3 separate regions of the Homo sapiens genome follow, and all the other regions are linked to region 1. Evidence: fine-mapped expression QTL. A gene starts in region 1. Each other region holds a variant in brackets. All regions are shown on one strand. Distances are from middle to middle. Region 1 holds the start of GRK4 (G protein-coupled receptor kinase 4). Region 2 overlaps GRK4 (G protein-coupled receptor kinase 4). Region 3 overlaps RGS12 (regulator of G protein signaling 12).

Region 1 (6,279 bases):
AATCACATTAATATTAATATATTAATATTATAATCACATTAATATTAATATATTAATATTATAATCACATTATCAATATATTAATATTATAATCACATTATCAATATATTAATATTATAATTACATTATTATTATATTATTATATCAATATTATATTAATATTATATCGATATTATTTTAATATTATATCAATATTATTATATTAATATTATATCAATATTATATTAATATTATATCGATATTATTTTAATATTATATCAATATTATTATATTAATATTATATCAATATTATATTAATACTACATCAATATTATATTAATACTATATTAATATTATAATAATATATTAATATTTTAATAATATATTAATATTATAATAATATATTAATATACTAATATAATAATATATTAATATGCTATTACAATAATATATTAATATGCTAATATTATAATAATATATTAATATATTAATATTGTTAGTATATTAATATATAGTAACTATATTAATAATATAGTTAGTATATTAATATATAGTAACTATATTAATATAGTTACTGATTTAAGAACTACATTAATATAACTTATTTTATAAATTATTTCAGAAATAAGGAAACTGAGGCACAGCTATAAAGCAATGTCCTGAGACTGGCACCTGGGGGCTGCCCTCTTCCTGCCAGACTGAGTGCCTCAGAGTGCTACAACTGACCAGAGGGGAGAAGCCAACTGAGGCAGCCTGTTTACTTCTAAGGGACTAACCCACATGAAAAGACCCAGGCCTCCTGCGCCGGCCTCACGGCCCCTACACGCGTTATCAAGCTTGGAGTCAACTGGACGACCTGCTGTCCCTCAGACAGCTGTGAGTGCCACACTTCACCATACCGGGACAATGTGCCTTTGCATGTGTGTCCTCTGCCCACCCTGGGCCCATGAACAGCTCACTCCCCTTGCAAAACTTGACTGTAACTCCCTCTAGAAGAATTTTTGGACTTTCCTAACTATTACACTTTTTCCTGACCGGGATCTCCTAAGGCACTCAGGTTCCATCTTTGATTTCTTCAAATATTTGTGTTTCTTCCAAGGGCCAAGCATTGGAGATCCAAAAAGGAGCAGCAATTCCCGTCCCCGTCCCAGGCCTTCAGCACAGGGCAGGGAGGTGGATCTGCTCAATACCAGAAGTTTGAGCAACCTGTCCTATTTGGGTTACATAGCTTGGGTGGTGAACCTGAGCTGGCCCTTTAGAGACTTTCGGAGGTAAGGCAGACCTTTTGGACAAACTGAGTTGCAAGAGGCGAAGCAAGGACAACAGCCAGACTGTGCGGGACTCGAACGACAAGCCAAGAAGGTTAAGAATAACAGTATTTAGAGAACACTTGCTGTGTGCTCTATGTGCTATCTTACTTAATTCTCACAAACCACCACGAGGGGTAGGATGTATACTATCATCTCTACTTTTGAAATGAGAAAACTGAGGCTTCAGTGGTGAAGACAAATGTGTCTCTTCTAGGGAACCACACTACCTTATTCTCCCACCCCGGCCCGGGGGTGTGTAATGAGGGACTCCTATCGAAGTCAGCTGTAAGTCTATCTTGCCTATTCATTATACAGGCTGTCGTCTTCGCGCAGTAAGGATAATATGTGTTTTGATTCAAAGACCATCCAGCTTGCACACTGTGATGAACAGAGATCAGGAGCTCATGAAGGCAAGGGCAAGTCTTATTTACCTTTATCTCCCCGAACCTAGAAGCGAGGTCAAACAGAAGCGCTCGGGGTAGCAAGAAGGCTTTGTAGATATTGAAATGTGAATGCATGCCCAGCCCTTACCAGGTGCGTGACCTTAGGAAATGCACTTGTCCTTTCTGTGCCTTAATTTTTTCACCAACCTGCTAATGTATGTTCCTCAGTGAAAATTTAAAAAAAAAAAAGTTAAAAAAACTAGGAAGCAATGAGTTTCCATAGAGTTACTTCCCAAGGAACAAGGTTACGCGCTTCGGGAGAGAGCCGATGAAACATCAAACGCAGCATCCTACACAGCCCCTATCCACCGTCCCCAAACCTGCAGAGCTCAAAGTAAACGCGGAAGGGTTAACAAGCAGCTTGGTCCAGGGCGCCGCCCGAAGTGACTGACTCGGCCTGACCCGGTTGGAGGAGTCGCCGAAATAACACGAGTGCAGGGTCTCCAAGACGGCGAGAGTTTCCAGGTCACTCCAGCTCAGAGAACAGCAGAGGCTTTCGGACTATCAAGTCAGTGCCGTGTGCCTGTCACGGCCTGTGCCGCTCAACGAGGAAACCGACGCACCGAGAAGGACGCAGCCGGCCGAGAGCAGCGTGGGGTCCAGATCCTGCCTTCCGGCTCCCCGTGCGCCCCCCGCTTACCTTCCTGAGGGCCCGTGCGCGAGACACCCCGGGCAGTCCCACGTCGTGGCGCGTCTTCCGGCCCAGGATCTGGAACTTCTGCCTGTTAACTTTCACCTCGAACGGATTGGAGTTGGCCTTCGCCGGGCCCCCTCGCGCTCCCGCCGGCGCCCCGGAGGCCTTCCTTCGCGCCCCGACCTTCTTCGCCTTCGCCATGGCGCGCGCCCCGCTGCGCCCAAGGGCCCGAGACCCGAAGAGAGACAGGCGCGCGCTACCCTAAGACACGTGCCGGGCCGCGGAACCGCTTCCTCGTCTCGCGAGAACAGCGCAGCACCTCCGACTCGCGAGAAGTAAACACCGCGCCCGCAGGCTCGGCTTACTCGCCGATAGGCTCAGCGACTACAACTCCCAGCAGGCCACGCGCCGCGGCCCGCCGTGTACTCTTGGCGCAGGGCCTTCTGGGAGCTGTAGTGCCCCGGCCGCGGCGGCGAGGGGCGCTCCCTCTTCAGCTAAGCCGTTAGCGCCGAGCCCGCCCGGGAGCGGGTCGCCGGCCGCGGCGGGCGCCCCTGCCAGTGAGCCCCTGTCCGAAGTGAGCCACGGCATTGACTCGGGGCTGCCCGGGGGCAGGGCACTGAGGAGGGAGTTGCGCGCGCGAGGCGAGGGCGATGGGGCCAAGAAGAACCGGGGCGATAGCGCGGCAGCGGTGACAGCTGGGACCCGCCGCGGTCGGGCTGCCCCCTCCCCTCGCCCCGACCGCTCCCCTGCTGGTGAGGGCCTGCGGAGGCGGCGGCGGCGGCGCCCTTGGTGGCAGTGGTGGCGGCGGAGCAGCCTCCCGGGATCGTGTCCGGAGCTCGAGGAGAGGGTGGTGCCCGGCGAGCTATGCACGGGGGCGGCGGCGTCTCCTCCTGTTCCGCCTCCTCAGTCTCCTCGGTCTCGCAGAATCCGCCGGCGGCGGCGGCGCCAGGACATGGAGCTCGAGAACATCGTGGCCAACTCGCTGCTGCTGAAAGCGCGTCAAGGTGGGTGCGCGGCAGGCGCCCCCGACCCCCCCCCCAGAGAACCCCGAATCCCGGGGAACCCTGGCCCCCCTGAAGGAACCCGACATCCCCGGAGAACCCCGATTTCCCTGGAGAGCCCCGACACCTCCCACTGGGGGAACCCAGATCTGCACGGAGCCGGAGCCGGGGTCTGTGCAGTGTGGTCAGGCTGCCCGGGCCAGGTCCCAGTCCCCATCTCCTGGCCCAGATGAGAGAAGTCTGCGCTTTGCTCTTCTTAGTCTTGCCCTGTGTCCTTGTCCTGTCCTCTCGGTGTGACCTCGGTGACAGTGTTGCTTCAGGATGCGGCAGGCAGTGTCCTGCTTGTGTTGGACAACCTGTCCCACCAAAAAAGAACGGCGTCTTTATGGTCTTAAGGGGGACAAAGAATAGCAGCCTGGGAACTACTCTGGGCGAGAACCTTCCGATAATGATTGTAGGGCAATGTTATTTTTAACATAGCTGCTTGGTTTTGAGGTTTGATCTGAGGCTCTATGGTGTGTCAAGTGTGCTTTAGCACGACGTGGTCACAGATGGACAAGTTGGCAAAAATTCAGCCTTTTATCATTATTAAAGTGAGGCAGAAATTTAAAAATAGTAATAAGTACTGCATTCATTCACTCCAAGAAAAGAAAAAGCCAAGGCCCAGAATGTGGCAAGGCAAGGGTTAAAAAGAAAAGAAGAACAAGTTTTCTTTTGCTTAGCAAGCTCACTTTAAGGACAGTTATAAGATAACGCTGTTCTGTTTGAGAAGTCGAATCCAAAGGAATAGGCTCCAGACACCCCCCTTCCAGAGCAGGGGTGAAGAAAAAAAAAAAAGAGGACAAATATCTGTGTTTAGCCAGTTCTTGGTTTTTTCTTTCAACGCAGCTACAAGGCCACCAGCTATGCAAGGCCACAAGTTATGCCAAGTCATCAGTTATGCTATAGATTATGTGACCTGTCATTATATGATTAACTGCCTTTGTTTTGCTTCTGTAAGTTTGCTTATAAAAATCCTGCTTAGTCTTTGTTCAAGGCTCAGCTTTTTGGATGTGAATCCACTGAGCTGGTGCGTACCTTAACATAAATATCCTCCTGTTTTCACCCATGCTGGTCTCTCTAGTCCTCTGCATCCCGCCACAAAAGCATCAGTTGGTCCAGCCCTTCAGCGGGAGACCCCCACAATCCTCTGTGCAATCCTCTGTCTCGGACCTCATGTCTCCCTTGCCTGCGTCTCAAGAGAGCTGGCGACAGAGCCTCGGACCTCAAGTCCCTGTGCTAGCCACGGTAGTTCTTCACACCCCGTCACTCTTACGGAATTGCTGATTTCCTCTATTTCCTTGCGTGATGGAGCAGCTCTGCTCGGACTGTGCTCCAGGACAGTGTAAATGCCGACTGAAGATGCCACAGCAGCCGGCGATGCATATTTAAAGGACAGTCTGGAGCCGAAGGTGGCGGCCACGCTTGTAGTCCCAGCTACTCTGGAAGCTGAGGTGGAAGGCTCACTTGGGCCCAGGAGAGTCCAGCCTGGGCAAAACACAGCAAGACCATCTCTTTAAAAAAGTCTAAAACAAAGACTTCATCTTCTCAGTATTTTTGTGCACCAACTCACACTATTTTGAATAGAAGAACTGAGAATGGGTGGGAAGAGAATGGGATCTTTTTCCCTTAAGATAATCAGGGAGTCCCAGAGCAGTATGCGTTCTCAGCAGCCATTTTCAGTGGAGCATTTGACTGTGCCTCTTATCCCTGACTGTGAACTCCAAATAGGTCATGGAAAATAATCATCCTTAGTGGAAGTCAGATTGAAGCTAAGCCAGTTTTCTTTTTACACTACCTTCCTATCTGCATGTAATTTACAAAAAGGAACTATACCAAGCCGCCTTCCTTATAATGCTGCAGAGATTAGATAATGAGATAAATACAAGTGCTCTATAAATGCTAAATAACATAAAACCAGATTCTGTCACAAAACCTAAGACCACAGTGATAGTTTGAAAAATGAAAGTTTTGGCCGGGCACGGTGGCTCACAGCTGTAATCCCAGCACTTTTGGAGGCCGAGGCGGGCGGATCACAAGGTCAGGAGATTGAGACCATCCTGGCTAACATGGTGAAACCCCGTCTCTACTAAAAATACAAAAATTAGCCGGGCGTGGTGGCGGGCGCCTGTAGTCCCAGCTACATGGGAGGCTGAGGCAGGAGAATGGCGTGAACCCTGGAGGCAGAGCTTGCAGTGAGCCGAGATCGCGCCACGGCACTCCAGCCTGGGTGACAGAGCGAGACTCCGTCTCGAAAAAAAAAAAAAAGAAAGTTTTAATTTTTTCCCTGAAATATCTCATATTAACTCCACAGTAGTGTGATTATGAGGCCTGTCCCCATTGAGTGAGAGTATTTGCTCCTGTGGTCAGAAAGCATCATTATGTATAGCTTGATTAATGGTTAGAGAAGTTGAATATATAATATTAGATATACATGGATACATGCTGAGTATTGGTTATAATTTAGGGCTTTTTCCCAAGTTGATGACTGTGTTTGTTACTTTAAAGTATCTCCCAGGAAGTACCAGGAGGTGTCTTCTTGGACACATAACTTCATGGACAGCTCCTTGTTTAGCTTCACTGGCTCATATACTAGAAAATTAACCTTTGAAATGAATGAACGTAGCACAAGAGTTATATTCTGGTCCTGAGAAGCGCAATGTTGATTTAATATTATTAGTGAGTCCGGTCATTTCCTGGATTTATTTCAAATAGAATCAGTCAGTCTCAATCCCCCCTCCCTCTCTGGTCCCTGCTATGGTCTGAATATTTGTGTTCCCCCAAAATTCTTATGTTGAAATCTTCACTACGAAGGGGATGGAATTAGGAGGTGGGGCATTTGGGAGGTGATTGGGTCATGAGAGTGGAACCCT
Region 2 (6,279 bases), 65 kb after region 1:
CACCTGTTTCCCCACAGCCTCGCCAGCAGACCGAGTTCTCGAACTTTGGAGTTTTTGTCAGTTTGTTAGCTGGGAATTGGTATTTCAGTGTAGTTTTAAGTTGCATTTCTCAGTTTAAAAATCCATTTTTATAAGAAAAATAAGACAATGATACGAAAAAAATAAGTCACAACATGTTAGCACTCTACTTAAATGAAAAATACACGAAAGCTGGCCAGGCACGGTGGCTCACGCCTGTAATCCCAGCACTTTGGGAGGCCAGGGTGGGAGGATCGCTTGAGCCCAGGAGTTCAAGACCAGCCTGGGCAACATGACCAAACCCTGTCTCTACAAAAGAAAAGAAAAGAAAATGAAATGTGGATTATTGAAAGAATGCATCTGTACAAGGGGAGGAAACTGAGACATGATAGTACATGGCAGAGCCAGGACTCAGACCCACGCCATCGGGCTGGGTCTGTGCTCCTCACCCCTGTGCTCTCCCGCCTCCCAGGGTGGGCGCGCAGCAAGGGCGGGGTGTGGTGTATCACGTGCATGCATCTGAGTCAGAGGCCGGCTTTCCTCTCTAAAGCATCATGCAGACTGTTTTAAAATGACTACAGTGCCTTGGAGGGCATGTCGCATATTTTTAGTTTTTAGCAAACATTTATTGGTTATTCATTCATTTCACCAATAAATATTTATTGAGCACCTACTGTAGGCCAGGGTATGATATTAGAAGCTGAGGATAAGTGGTGAATAAGTTGAAGATAGTGTCCGCTTCCAGGGCTGGCTAATCTTTCTACACACTCAACAGAATGTTTTCGATAATTTCGTATTTTCTTTATAATTTTTTTGAGACAGATTCTCACTCTTGCCCTGCAGTGGTGTGATCATGGTTCACCGCAGCCTCGACCTTCTGGGCTTAAGCGATCCTCCTGCCTCAGCCTCCAGAGTAGCTGGGACCATAGCCATGTGCCATCACACCCAGCTAATTTTTTTAAAAATCTTTTTTTATAGAGACAGGGTCTTGTCATGTTTCCCAGGCTGGTCTCAAAATGTGGAACTCAAGTAATCCTCCGACCTTGGCCTCCCAAAGTGCTGGAATTACAGGTGTGAACCACCGTGTCTGGCCTAATTTGTTAGTTCCATAGGAATTCAACAAATATTTAAATCCTTCTATATTCAACGCATTAACACATAATATAGTTCCCTAAGTACCTTAATTTTGTTTATTATTTCCCTGACTCTATTACCATTTGTTCTCAAGAGAATAACTCCATATCATTCATGTGTAGCTGTCCCTGTGTATAGTACTGGTACTCTGACAGAAAGTATTTATTTACTGTTCTGTAGTTGATATAATATTCATTATATTTTTATTGATGTACCTGGAAGTTGTATGACATAAAATAATAAATCCAGTGTTTCTGTCTTATCAAGTGGTGGCCTATGATTAAAGGGCTTCCTGATCAATAGCCAGGCAAAAATCGAATTTTCCTGCTGCTAGTGAAAATGCATTGTATGGAATTTTACTAAACATGAAAAAGTTAAATGCCATTTTACGTTTACTGTTCCAGAGTATGAAATGCTATTATTTCCAGCCATGGTTTTTGAGGGGCCTTTTTTCCCATTTTAATTGTTGTTACGGTGTCATTACTTCCCCCGTGACCTGTGTAATAACATATTTGAACACACAGGACACATCCGGATTTCAGACCTCGGTTTGGCCACAGAGATCCCAGAAGGACAGAGGGTTCGAGGAAGAGTTGGAACAGTCGGCTACATGGGTTCGTGAGAGGCTTTCGGCGTCCTTGTCCTTTCTATCCGGGTGCCTGAGTGCCTCAGAACACAGAGAAATCCACCCTGAATGGACCGGGGCCTCGGTTTGGACACACTAGTAGATGGCGCAGTGGTGTTTTGAATCTCTAACCTGTCAGAGTGTTGAGGCTGCTGGGGATCCTGTAGGCTGCCCTCAGCTTCTTACAGATGAGGGGTGAGGCCTGAGAGGTTGTGAGTCCTGAGGTCACTCAGCGAAGTGAGGGCAGAATCGGGATGACACCGCAGGTCTCCTCACTCTACCAGTGTCCTCCCCTGTGCACCACGGCCTCTCGGAGCCTCAGGAAATCACCCCACTCTGGTTATTCCAAAGATCCGGGGGCAGTGCCAGCCAACCCCCAGGGGTGGCCTCTGAGAGCCTCGCAGAGTCCTGCAGGAAGACCCCAAGGTCTTGTGGCTTTCCGCTCTTGCGTCTTGTGGGGTTTTTCACTGCCCTGGGATAGATGGCAAGACGTGACACTTGGGGCGCCCTGGGCATGGCTCTGTGTGTCTGGAGGGAGCCCCTTCAGGAGGTGGAGCCTTCCCTAGACCACCATTTCCCTTGTGAATGTGACTCTGTGGCAATTCAGCTCATCTTGGATGAATCATACAAATGTTTAAAAATATTAGCTTTATTGGGATATAATTCATATATCATCAAGTCCACCAGTTTGAAGTGTGTAATACAACGGATTTTAGTATTTTCACAGAGTCATGCAACCATCACCACCATCTAATTTCACAACTTTTTTTTTTTTTTGAGACAGAGTCTCACTCAGTCGCCCAGGCTAGAATGCAGTGGCACAATCTTGGCTCACTGCAACGTCCACCTCCCAGGCACAAGCGATTCTCCTGCCTCAGCTTCCTGAGTATCTGGAACTACAGGCGCCTGCCGCCATACCTGGCTAATTTTTGTATTTTTAGTAGAGACAGGGTTTCACCATGTTGTCCAGGCTGGTCTCAAACTCCTGATCTCAGGTGATCTGCCTGCCTTCGCCTCCCAAAATGCTGGGATTATAGGTGTGAGCCACCGCTCCCAG[C/A]CTTAACATAATGTTTTTAAGGTTCGTCCATGTTGTCACACACGTTGAATGTATACTGTGTTACTGGGAATTATAAGAAAATTTAAAATCAAAATTTAACTTAATTTCCATTTCCTGTATTTGTTATGTAGCACCTGAAGTTGTCAATAATGAAAAGTATACGTTTAGTCCCGATTGGTGGGGACTTGGCTGTCTGATCTATGAAATGATTCAGGGACATTCTCCATTCAAAAAATACAAAGAGAAAGTCAAATGGGAGGAGGTCGATCAAAGAATCAAGAATGATACCGAGGAGTATTCTGAGAAGTTTTCAGAGGATGCCAAATCTATCTGCAGGATGGTAAGTCAGGCTCTGTAGAGGCTGGGAAATGGCACTTCTCACTCATTCTAGTTGTTTTCACTGGCAGCTATAACAAAAAAAATTGGTCTGTCATCTTCAGCAAGTCCTGGTCACCCACCTCCCAGGCCCTGCCCCTGCCCCTGCAGCCCAGTAGGGAGGACACGCGTGTTCAGGAGGCTCGGGTCCACCTGTGTCTTGGCCCAGCAGGGAGGACACGTGTGTTCAGGAGGCTCAGGTCCACCTGTCTCCTGGCCCAGCAGGGAGGACACGCGTGTTCAGGAGGCTCAGGTCCACCTGCCTCCTGGCCCAGCAGGGAGGACACATGTGCTCAGGAGGCTCACGTCAACCTGTCTCTTGGCCCAGCAGGGAGGACACGTTTGCTTAGGAAGCTCACGTCTACCTGCCTCCTTCCCCATGCTCCTGCCACTGGGATTTCATCAGACAAAAAGAGCCAGTGAGAAAAGTTTCCAGACATGATCTGGAAATGACTTAATTGGGTTTTGATTGGAGCAAAACACAGTAAAATTCATGGTTTGATTTCTCAAATAATGCTACTGAAAGGGAAGAGTGGTACCAAGGTTATTAATTCAGTTTTCAGAAAATAGCCAAGCCTTGTTTCATTGACCAATTTTATATGAAGTTAGACATAAAACCAATCTTTCATGTATTTTGAGGTGGGTAAGGGTTTAGCCACCTGCCAGGGATTGTAGTCCCAGAGACACTCTGACCTGAGGGCCTTCTGTGTGCCTGGCTCTGGGCCTGGTGCTGGACAGACCATTCCTTAACTGTGCTAAGGGCCTCTGAGGCTGACGGTGGCACCCGCGAGTCACAGCAAGGAGATGAGCCCCAAGCGGTGGAGACCTGGTCCCTGGTCCCAGAATGAGCCAGTGGCTGTCAGGGTCCATCTGCCTCTGGGACTGGACTGTGTTACCACCCCTCACTGCCCAGACACTCAATCAGTGAGGGAAACTCTCTTTGTTACTTACTTTAAACCAGTATTTTTTTAGCACATTTTTTTTTTCATTTATTTTCATTCAACAAGGATTTATTGAGCATCTTGTATGTTCCAGGCACCGTCCTAGGCATTGGGGGAAACAGCAGCAAATAGAACAGAAGTCCCCGCCCTGCCAGCGAGAACTGACAGGAAACAGAACAAATGCATAGACGTGTGGGCTGTGGGGAGGACCCGCACTCTGGAGGACGGGGAACTGCCTGGAGGGGCGGCAGGCTCTAGGGGGTGAGAGGGGGTCGGCCTGCTGGGCAGAGCAGACAGAGATTGTCTGCAATAGCAAGGCCACAGTGGCAGGCTGCTGGCAAGAGCAGGAGGGGGTTAGAGGGGGACGGGACAGAGAGCAGGAAGCCCAGGCCATGCTGAACCACCTGTCACTTGTTATTGTCATCATTGTCAAGCCTTGAGTGTTGCTTCCTCTGATGGCCATGAAGCCATCGCAGGGCTCTGTGAAGAGTGATGTGATGAGACTGGGCTTGCCGGCCACTGGGAGAGAATGAATGGACAGGGAGGAGGAAGGCCATTGGGGGCTTTGCAGCGATTCAGGTGAGAGTAAAGGTGACGCAGACCTCGGTGATGGCAGAGCAGGTGTGAGAAGTGATGGCAGATGACCGCTGTCAGATTCAGGATGGATCCTGAAGGCAGGTGGTGGAGAAGACTTCAGGCTGACTCCAAGATGGGCTGGAGGGAAGGGGGCACTCGCTGGAGCCAAGTCCTTGCAGTGGGGAGGACAGCAGCCAGCGCACGGGGAGTGTGTGGGCAGTTCCTCCAGTGACCGGAGAGGAGGCAGAGTCTGTGGCCAGTGCAGCACAGCTGGGGAGACGTGAGCAGGGCTGTGAACGGTCTCTTATGGAGCTTCTTTTTCTCAGATGGTCAGCCCCTAGTGGGGAGCAAAGGTGGGAGGCAGGTGTGAGGAAAGGGGAGGCTTGAAGGCTTGGAAAGCAGGGGTTTCCTCAACAGCATCAAGAGCCCATGCGGACCTGAAGGGAGGGGAGTGGCCGTGGTTGTGTGCTGGGCTTCTGCCACACCTGGACGGTGCAGGCTCAGAGCCAGCAGGGAGCTGCACTCGCCCAGCTCTGGTTTGTCCAGCAGCTAGAGAGAGGCCGGGGAGCTGGGCTGCATGCCAGGGAGTGACTAGAGGACAGACCATGGGCTCGACGCTGGCTCCAGTGGACGAGGAAATGGACACAGGGAACGGCAGGTTCAACAGGATGGGCAAAGCATGGTCCAAGTTGGGAGTCCATACACCTCCAGGCCAGAGTTAGAAAGATGAGAGGGACGCTCAGAGAGGAAGCTGCTTGGAGTGGAGCTGACAGAGTGCTTGCTGGCCAAGAGTCTGGGGTGTGACCAGGGAGAGAGTGGCTGGGGGTCACTGGGGGGATGGAGGATGAAGTCACTGGAGAAGAGAAGGCCACAGGACCAAGCAGCCAGGCATAGGCCCCTGCCTGGGTGTGGGCATTCCTAGCAGCTGTGCCTGGGTAACTGACATGGGCTGGCAGTGGCTGGAGAGGAGTTATTCTGATGTCCTTTTCATGTGTTTCCATATATGAAGCCATGGGTGCTACAGGCTCGTCCTGGAGCCAGGGGTCAGCCTGGAGTTCTCCCGGCTACCTCACTCTGCTTAGAGCTGACTGTTAAATAATGGAGTCTTCCTCCCACAGGACACTGACAGGGCTGCAAGAATGTATAAATATGTACCAGAAATGGAGTCTGCCCCTAAGAGCTCACAGTTTAATGTTAGGCCTAAAACAAACAGAAATGACTGCAGTGAAAAAGCAGAATGGGCCGGGTGCGGTGGCTCATGCTATAATCCCAGCACTTTGGGAGGTCAAGGCAGGTGGATCATGAGGTCAGGAGTTTGAGACCAGCCTGGCCAAGATGGTGAAATCCTATCTCTACTAAAAAAAAAATTAGCCAGGTGCGGTGGTGGGCGCCTGTAATCCCAGGTACTCGGAAGGCTGTGCCACTGCACTCCAGCCTGGCGACAGAGCATGACTCCGTCTCAAAAAAGAAAAAAGAAAAGAAAAAGCAGAATGCATACTTGTTCTGCTAGGCTCGGGGAGGGGAAGAAAAATAAAGCAGGATGCAATGGGTGT
Region 3 (6,279 bases), 350 kb after region 1:
GGTGTTTAGGATGACATGCGCTGCACAGCAAGTCCTGGCCGTGGCGGCTGCCATTGCAGCCCGTGGGGTCACCCTGGAGGCCGTGATTGCTGATGTTGTGCTGTTCTTGTGCCTTGCTCTCTTCTTCTCGGTGCCCCCAGACTCTCTCTGCCTTCGGAGGACGGCGTCTCTCTCGCCTCACACTGTGTGCACGGGCAGTGCGGACGGGTGCTGGCTTGGTCTTTCCAGCCCTGCCTCGCTCGGGGCCTGCTGCATCGTAGCTCAGGCCTAGGACCCATCTCTGTACCTGCAGGTCTTGGGTGCTGCCCGGCATGAGTGGAGGAGTTTATCAGAACAGGACCTTTTATAGGAGGTTTTAACTTTAGAAGGGAATAGAAAAGTGTCATGGCAGCAATATTTATTTCTAGATCACCCTGAGTTTTTTTTCTTTGTTTTGTTTTATTGTCCTCTTTACACCATGAGTTTTTAATGATGAATGAGTGAAGGAGTGACAGTGCGGGTTGAGCATCCCTTATCCAGATGCTCCAGAATCGGAAACCCTCTGACACCGATGTGGCACCTCAGGCATAGCTGAGCTAGTGACACCTTTGCTTTCTCATGGGTCAGTGTACACAAACCTTGTTTCATGCACAAAATTATCAAAAGTACCGCACAAAATTACCCTCAGGCTGTGTGTATAAGGTGTATATGAAACATAAATGAATTTCCTGTTCAGACCTGGGTCCTATCCAAACATATCTCATTACGTATATACAGATGTTCCGAATCAGAAAAAATCCACAGCCCTTCTGGTCCCAAAAATCTCTTCTAAGGGACACTCAGCCTGTGTGACGTGGTCGGTGACTCCTGATGGGAGGTGGCAGTGCTGTGCGGCGAGTGGGGACCTTCGTGTCACATCCCATCTGTGCCTCAGGGCTTGGATGAATTACTTCTGGCTGGACCTTGTTCCCTTTTCCACACAGTGAAGAGGCTGGGTTAAATGATCTCCAGTCAAGGTGATTCAGAGTTAGCTGGAAGGTGTGTAGGGGGAAGTTGGAGCTTCCTGGCCTTGCCCCAGACTTACTAAGTCAGAGTCCCTGGGAGGTGCAGGGGCTTGGGAGCAGGCGTTCTTACTGGTAGCCCCGATGGTGTAATGGAAGTTCAGCTGGAATCCAGTACCCCATGGTCTTCTAAATTTCACTGTCTGTTCTGCTAGCTTTACTATTAATTGATACAGTTTTAAAAAAAATTAAACTATAAGCTGAACTTATGTGATTATTTTGGGAGGCCAAGGTGGGAGGATTGCTTGAGGTCAGAAGTTTGAGACTAGTCTGGGCAACATAGTGAGACCTCGTCTACAGAAAAATTAAAACATTAGCCAAGGTTCACTGGGTGTCTTCTCCTTGGCCCCTTTGCCCACGTGGTGAACACTGTGGACCTGTGAGGGTGTGAGGGTTGCGTTCCTGCGTTCTGGACTCTTTACCCACTACTGAGAAGCAGCCGTTTGAAATATGAGTTGGCAAGGAAGATCAGCATGTAGGCTTAGACCAAGACGGTATGTGCAGCCTCCTGAGCTAACTGGGCCTGTGCTTGAGCCCAGTGATGAGCAGCCTCAGCAAGAGGAACCACCACCTGAAAGTCGGGGTCTTACCTGGCCAGGAGAGAGAGGAAGATCACGGTGCTGCTGAGATTCTTGTGCTTGACCAGGAAGCTGATCTCCGGGAGCTGTCTCAAAGACTGGGATGAATGTGGAGATGGTCCTGATGTCCGGGGAATATTCTGCCGAAATCAGAGCAATTTAAATTGCCAGAAGGAGGTGAAGGGCAACCACAGGTTCCAAGGAAGACAAGCTGAAACAATGCAAACTGGTTTTATATTAGATACGTGACTTAAAATATCTCAATACAGTTTTCTCCAAAAAAAAAAAAATAGTTAGCCGAGTATGGGGGTGTGCTTGGTATGGCTTGAGCCCAGGAGTGAGTTTGAGGCTGCACCGAGCAATGACTGTGCCACTGCACTCCAGTCTGGGCAATGGAGTGAGACCCTGTCTCTAAAAAATAAAAACAAAGAAACGTGATTATAGATAATAAGATATTACTTACATGAGTTACAAACCATTTCTTTTTAATAAGCAGAGGCCCATGACAGTAAGAGTCTAGTAGAAAAATTGGGTGGACTGCATAGAAGACATTGTCCATCATTATGTCACACAGTGTGAGGCGGATGGTGCGAATAAACTGGGAAGTCATGTCTTTCATTGAGGCAGCATCTATTCCTGTTTGGAAGAGAAAGCCGAGAGGTGTTCTGTTCCCCGAGGAAGCCATCAAGGCTTCATGACCTGCTGTCCTGGGGCTGTTCACAGTGATAGCTGGCACTTGCCGGGAACAGCAGCACCTTTGTTGTGTGACAGATGCTTTTCTGAGCGTGCTTTAGTGAGACCGTTTCACGCATGTCCTGCTTTCCCTCTCCCCTCACCCGTGACAAAGTGATTCCCCCTTGTATTTGTTTCCTGGGGTTGCTGAAAGAAATTACTGCAAACTGGGGGGCTTAAGACAACACACATTCATTCTCCTGCGTTTTCGGGGGCCTCGTGTCTGCAGTCAGTGTGACCTGGCTGATGGCAGGTGTGGCAGAGCTGGTTCCTCTGGTGACTTTAAGTCTGCTTCCTTCACCTTTCCGGCTTCTGGAGGTGACCGCCTGCCCGTCTGCCTGGGCTCGAGACCCATCCTTGAATCCCTGCAGTCTCCGCATCCTTCCTCATGTGGCCGTCCCCTCTGGCTCTGACCCCAGGCTCACACAGGCGCACCCCACACTCTCCCCATCTCTAGAGCCTTCACGTGGTCACGTGGATGGGAGGAGCCATCCAAAAGCTTGGGAGTGAGGATGTGGGTGTATCAGGGGCCATCAGCCAGCCTGTCACACCTCTTAAGAAGATCGATCCCCAGACGTGTTTCTTGGCCAACTTTTACATTTATTTATTTATTTTTTAATGATGATTTTTAATAATTTTTAATTATTAAAAAATTATAAAATAATTTTAATTATTTTATTTTTTAAATTCATTTTTTAATGATTTTAAATAGTTAAATGCCCAGTCCTAATATTTAAATTATTAATACAGTACTACTTAGATATTGAGTAATGTAATTTATATTCATTTTTTACTCTTTTCCATCAAAACATAATTTTACTAAGTACGCATGTTCTGTGTCCGTGTTTTGTCATCACTGAAGCCACTTTTGGAGTCACCTAGTAATAGCCTTTCCACTCTATCTAGTTCTGTAGCTTTTATGTGTGTAAATTACTTCAAATCTGTTTATGATCCTATTGCTGGAAACTTTATCCCAAGACACAAAAATCTTTTCTATTAGAAGTTATTAACTTTAAAACAATTATTTATTTTATTTTATTTTATTTTTTGAGACAGAGTCTCGCTTTGTCACCCAGGCTGGAGTGCAGTGGCACGATCTCGGCTCACTGCAAGCTCCACCTCCCGAGTTCATGCCATTCTCCTGCCTCAGCCTCCCGAGTAGCTGGGACTACGGGCGTCCGCCACCATGCCCAGCTAATTTTTTTTGTATTTTTGGTAGAGACAAGGTTTCACCGTGTTAGCCAGGATGGTCTTGATCTC[C/T]TGACCTCGTGGTCCACCTGCCTCGGCCTCCCAAAGCGCTGGGATTATAGGCGTGAGCCACCGCACCTGGCCTAAAACAATTATTTCTTTAAAAAAACATACCCTCTATTCTATTTTGTGTCTTCACAACACAATCACTTACTGTATTGCTTTTTAAAGTGATCTTTAAAGAGTCTTGCAGAAGAGACTACACAGCAGGCCCGAGACCATCCTGAGAGGCCTGTGTGCAAGGCTGGCCCCCCGCTGGTGTCAGGACGGTGCCCACCACCCTCAATGAAGAGGGGCTCCCTGTGCTTAGCTGCTTGTGTGGGGAACAAGGTTTGTGCTGAGAACCTTCCTTTCTTCTGGGAGTCCAGAGTCTGGGCACGAAGCAGGCAGAGGGTGCCCATGTGCCCAGCCCCCAGTAAAAACCCTGGCACCGAGTCTCTAGTGGGCTTCCCTGGTGACGACACTGCACATGCGTTGTCACGGCTCACTGTGTAGGGAGTTAAGTGCGTCCTGCGTGACCCCGCTGGGAGAGGATTCTGGAAGCTCAAGCCTGGTTTCTTTGGGACATCGCCCCATGGACCTCTGCCCTTGCTGATTTTGTGTGGAATCCTTTCGCTGTAATGAATCTCAGCTGTGAGAGCACCTTTGTGCCAAGTCCTGGGAATCCTAGGGAATCACTGGCCTGGGGGTGATCCGCGGACCACTGACAAGTTTGTTCTCAATGACAACCAATACTTTTATACCCCCTGGAAGAATTGAGTTAATATGACATTTCTGCTTTTTTAGGTGGTGGTTTTTATCTAGCCTGTTGAGTGGCCTCTGCAGTATTGATCGAGGTTGTTTCAGGCTAATACGTTTTCCCCCACACAGTATATTCAAAATAAATTAATGTGGGAGGGTCATGGAATATTAGGTGACCCCTCTCCTGAGGGAAAACTCTATGTCAGGGGATTTATGATCAACTAAGGGGTTAGACTCAGTGTTCTGCAGGTGCCTTTGAACCTGAAGCCTGTAGCAGGCCTTGCTTCTCACGCTTGGACTCTGCCATCCTGTGAAACGTGGGTTTGGGTGTGTTTCTTCTGTGTGGAGCCCGAGAGTCTGCCTTTCAGACGGGCTGCCAGTCCACGGACCACACTTTGAGTAGCAAGGGGCTCTTTCCATCCAAACAGGGTGTGGAAGCAGTGCTGGGAAGCAGTCCTGCATCCTCACACCCGTGGCAGGTGGGCCTGGCAGGAACTTGTGTGGTAACAAGGTAGCAGTTGTGGGAGACATTTTCTACTCCGAAAGGAAGTTTCTTAGCCTGACTTGAAGATTTATTATCTATAGACACTTAGAGGCTCTTTCTGTGGTGGTTTTTATTATGAATTATCTTTTTGTGTTTAGCTAATACCAGTGAGTGGTGGAGAAAGATGGGCTCTTTAATAATGAGCTGTTCGTTTTTCTTTCTTAGGGCACTGTTTGAAGAAGCAAACATGGTAGCATCAAGCATTCCTTGAAATATGGCTCCAAGGGAACAATGAGACGTGCTCTTGGTCTTGGAAGCTCATCAGAATGTTTAGAGCTGGGGAGGCCTCCAAACGCCCATTGCCTGGGCCGTCGCCCCCAAGGGTGCGGAGTGTGGAGGTTGCCCGGGGGAGGGCCGGCTACGGATTCACGCTTTCGGGACAGGCACCCTGTGTGCTCAGCTGCGTCATGAGAGGGAGCCCTGCGGATTTCGTGGGCCTCCGAGCTGGAGACCAGATACTTGCTGTCAATGAAATCAACGTGAAAAAAGCATCTCATGAAGATGTAGTGAAATTAATTGGGAAGTGCTCTGGTGTCCTTCACATGGTGATTGCTGAAGGCGTCGGCCGCTTCGAATCCTGTTCCAGTGATGAAGAAGGGGGACTCTATGAAGGAAAAGGCTGGCTGAAGCCCAAGCTGGATTCTAAAGCACTAGGTATAAACAGAGCAGAGCGAGTCGTGGAGGAAATGCAGTCTGGTGGAATTTTCAATATGATTTTTGAAAACCCGAGCCTTTGTGCGAGCAATTCAGAGCCCTTGAAATTGAAACAAAGATCCCTTTCAGAGTCGGCCGCAACTCGATTTGATGTTGGACATGAAAGTATAAATAATCCAAATCCCAACATGCTTTCTAAGGAGGAAATATCAAAAGTTATTCATGATGATTCGGTTTTCAGCATTGGACTAGAAAGTCATGACGATTTTGCATTGGATGCAAGTATTTTAAACGTGGCGATGATCGTGGGCTACTTAGGCTCCATTGAGCTTCCTTCCACGAGCTCCAACCTGGAGTCCGACAGCTTGCAAGCCATCCGCGGCTGCATGCGGCGCCTGCGGGCAGAGCAGAAAATCCACTCGCTGGTGACCATGAAGATCATGCACGACTGTGTGCAGCTGAGCACTGACAAGGCTGGAGTCGTGGCCGAGTACCCGGCCGAGAAGCTGGCCTTCAGCGCCGTGTGCCCGGACGACCGGCGATTTTTCGGGTTGGTTACCATGCAGACGAATGACGACGGGAGCCTGGCCCAGGAGGAGGAGGGCGCCCTGCGGACTTCCTGCCACGTGTTCATGGTGGACCCAGACTTGTTTAATCACAAGATCCACCAAGGCATTGCTCGGCGGTTTGGGTTTGAGTGCACGGCCGACCCAGACACCAATGGCTGTCTGGAATTCCCGGC

What was found. PIP is the estimated chance that this variant, and not a neighbour inherited with it, causes the effect.
Region 2: its variant is the best candidate, but not a certain one, in a credible set for the expression of GRK4 in testis (GTEx, PIP 0.52).
Region 3: its variant is the best candidate, but not a certain one, in a credible set for the expression of GRK4 in ovary (GTEx, PIP 0.52).

What each region holds. Positions count from the first base shown.
Region 1 is chr4:2,960,753-2,967,031 of GRCh38, forward strand. It overlaps GRK4 (G protein-coupled receptor kinase 4), which reads left to right and starts at 2,819. Exons shown (of 16, transcript NM_182982.3): 1 at 2,819-3,370. The coding sequence starts at 3,319. It overlaps NOP14 (NOP14 nucleolar protein), which reads right to left and starts at 2,654. Exons shown (of 18, transcript NM_001291978.2): 1 at 2,373-2,654. The coding sequence starts at 2,567. RefSeq lists enhancers at 1,212-1,281, 2,312-2,845, 2,846-3,379 and silencers at 2,842-3,271, 3,442-3,491.
Region 2 is chr4:3,026,236-3,032,514 of GRCh38, forward strand. It overlaps GRK4 (G protein-coupled receptor kinase 4), which reads left to right. Exons shown (of 16, transcript NM_182982.3): 11 at 1,677-1,766; 12 at 2,966-3,174. Among named protein-coding and RNA genes, the nearest start is that of HTT, 45 kb to the right of the region's middle. The variant C/A (reference allele first, on the strand shown) is at 2,835.
Region 3 is chr4:3,311,022-3,317,300 of GRCh38, forward strand. It overlaps RGS12 (regulator of G protein signaling 12), which reads left to right. Exons shown (of 18, transcript NM_001394154.1): 2 at 5,049-6,279. The coding sequence starts at 5,150. It also overlaps the pseudogene LOC100286945. Among named protein-coding and RNA genes, the nearest start is that of RGS12, 21 kb to the left of the region's middle. The variant C/T (reference allele first, on the strand shown) is at 3,611.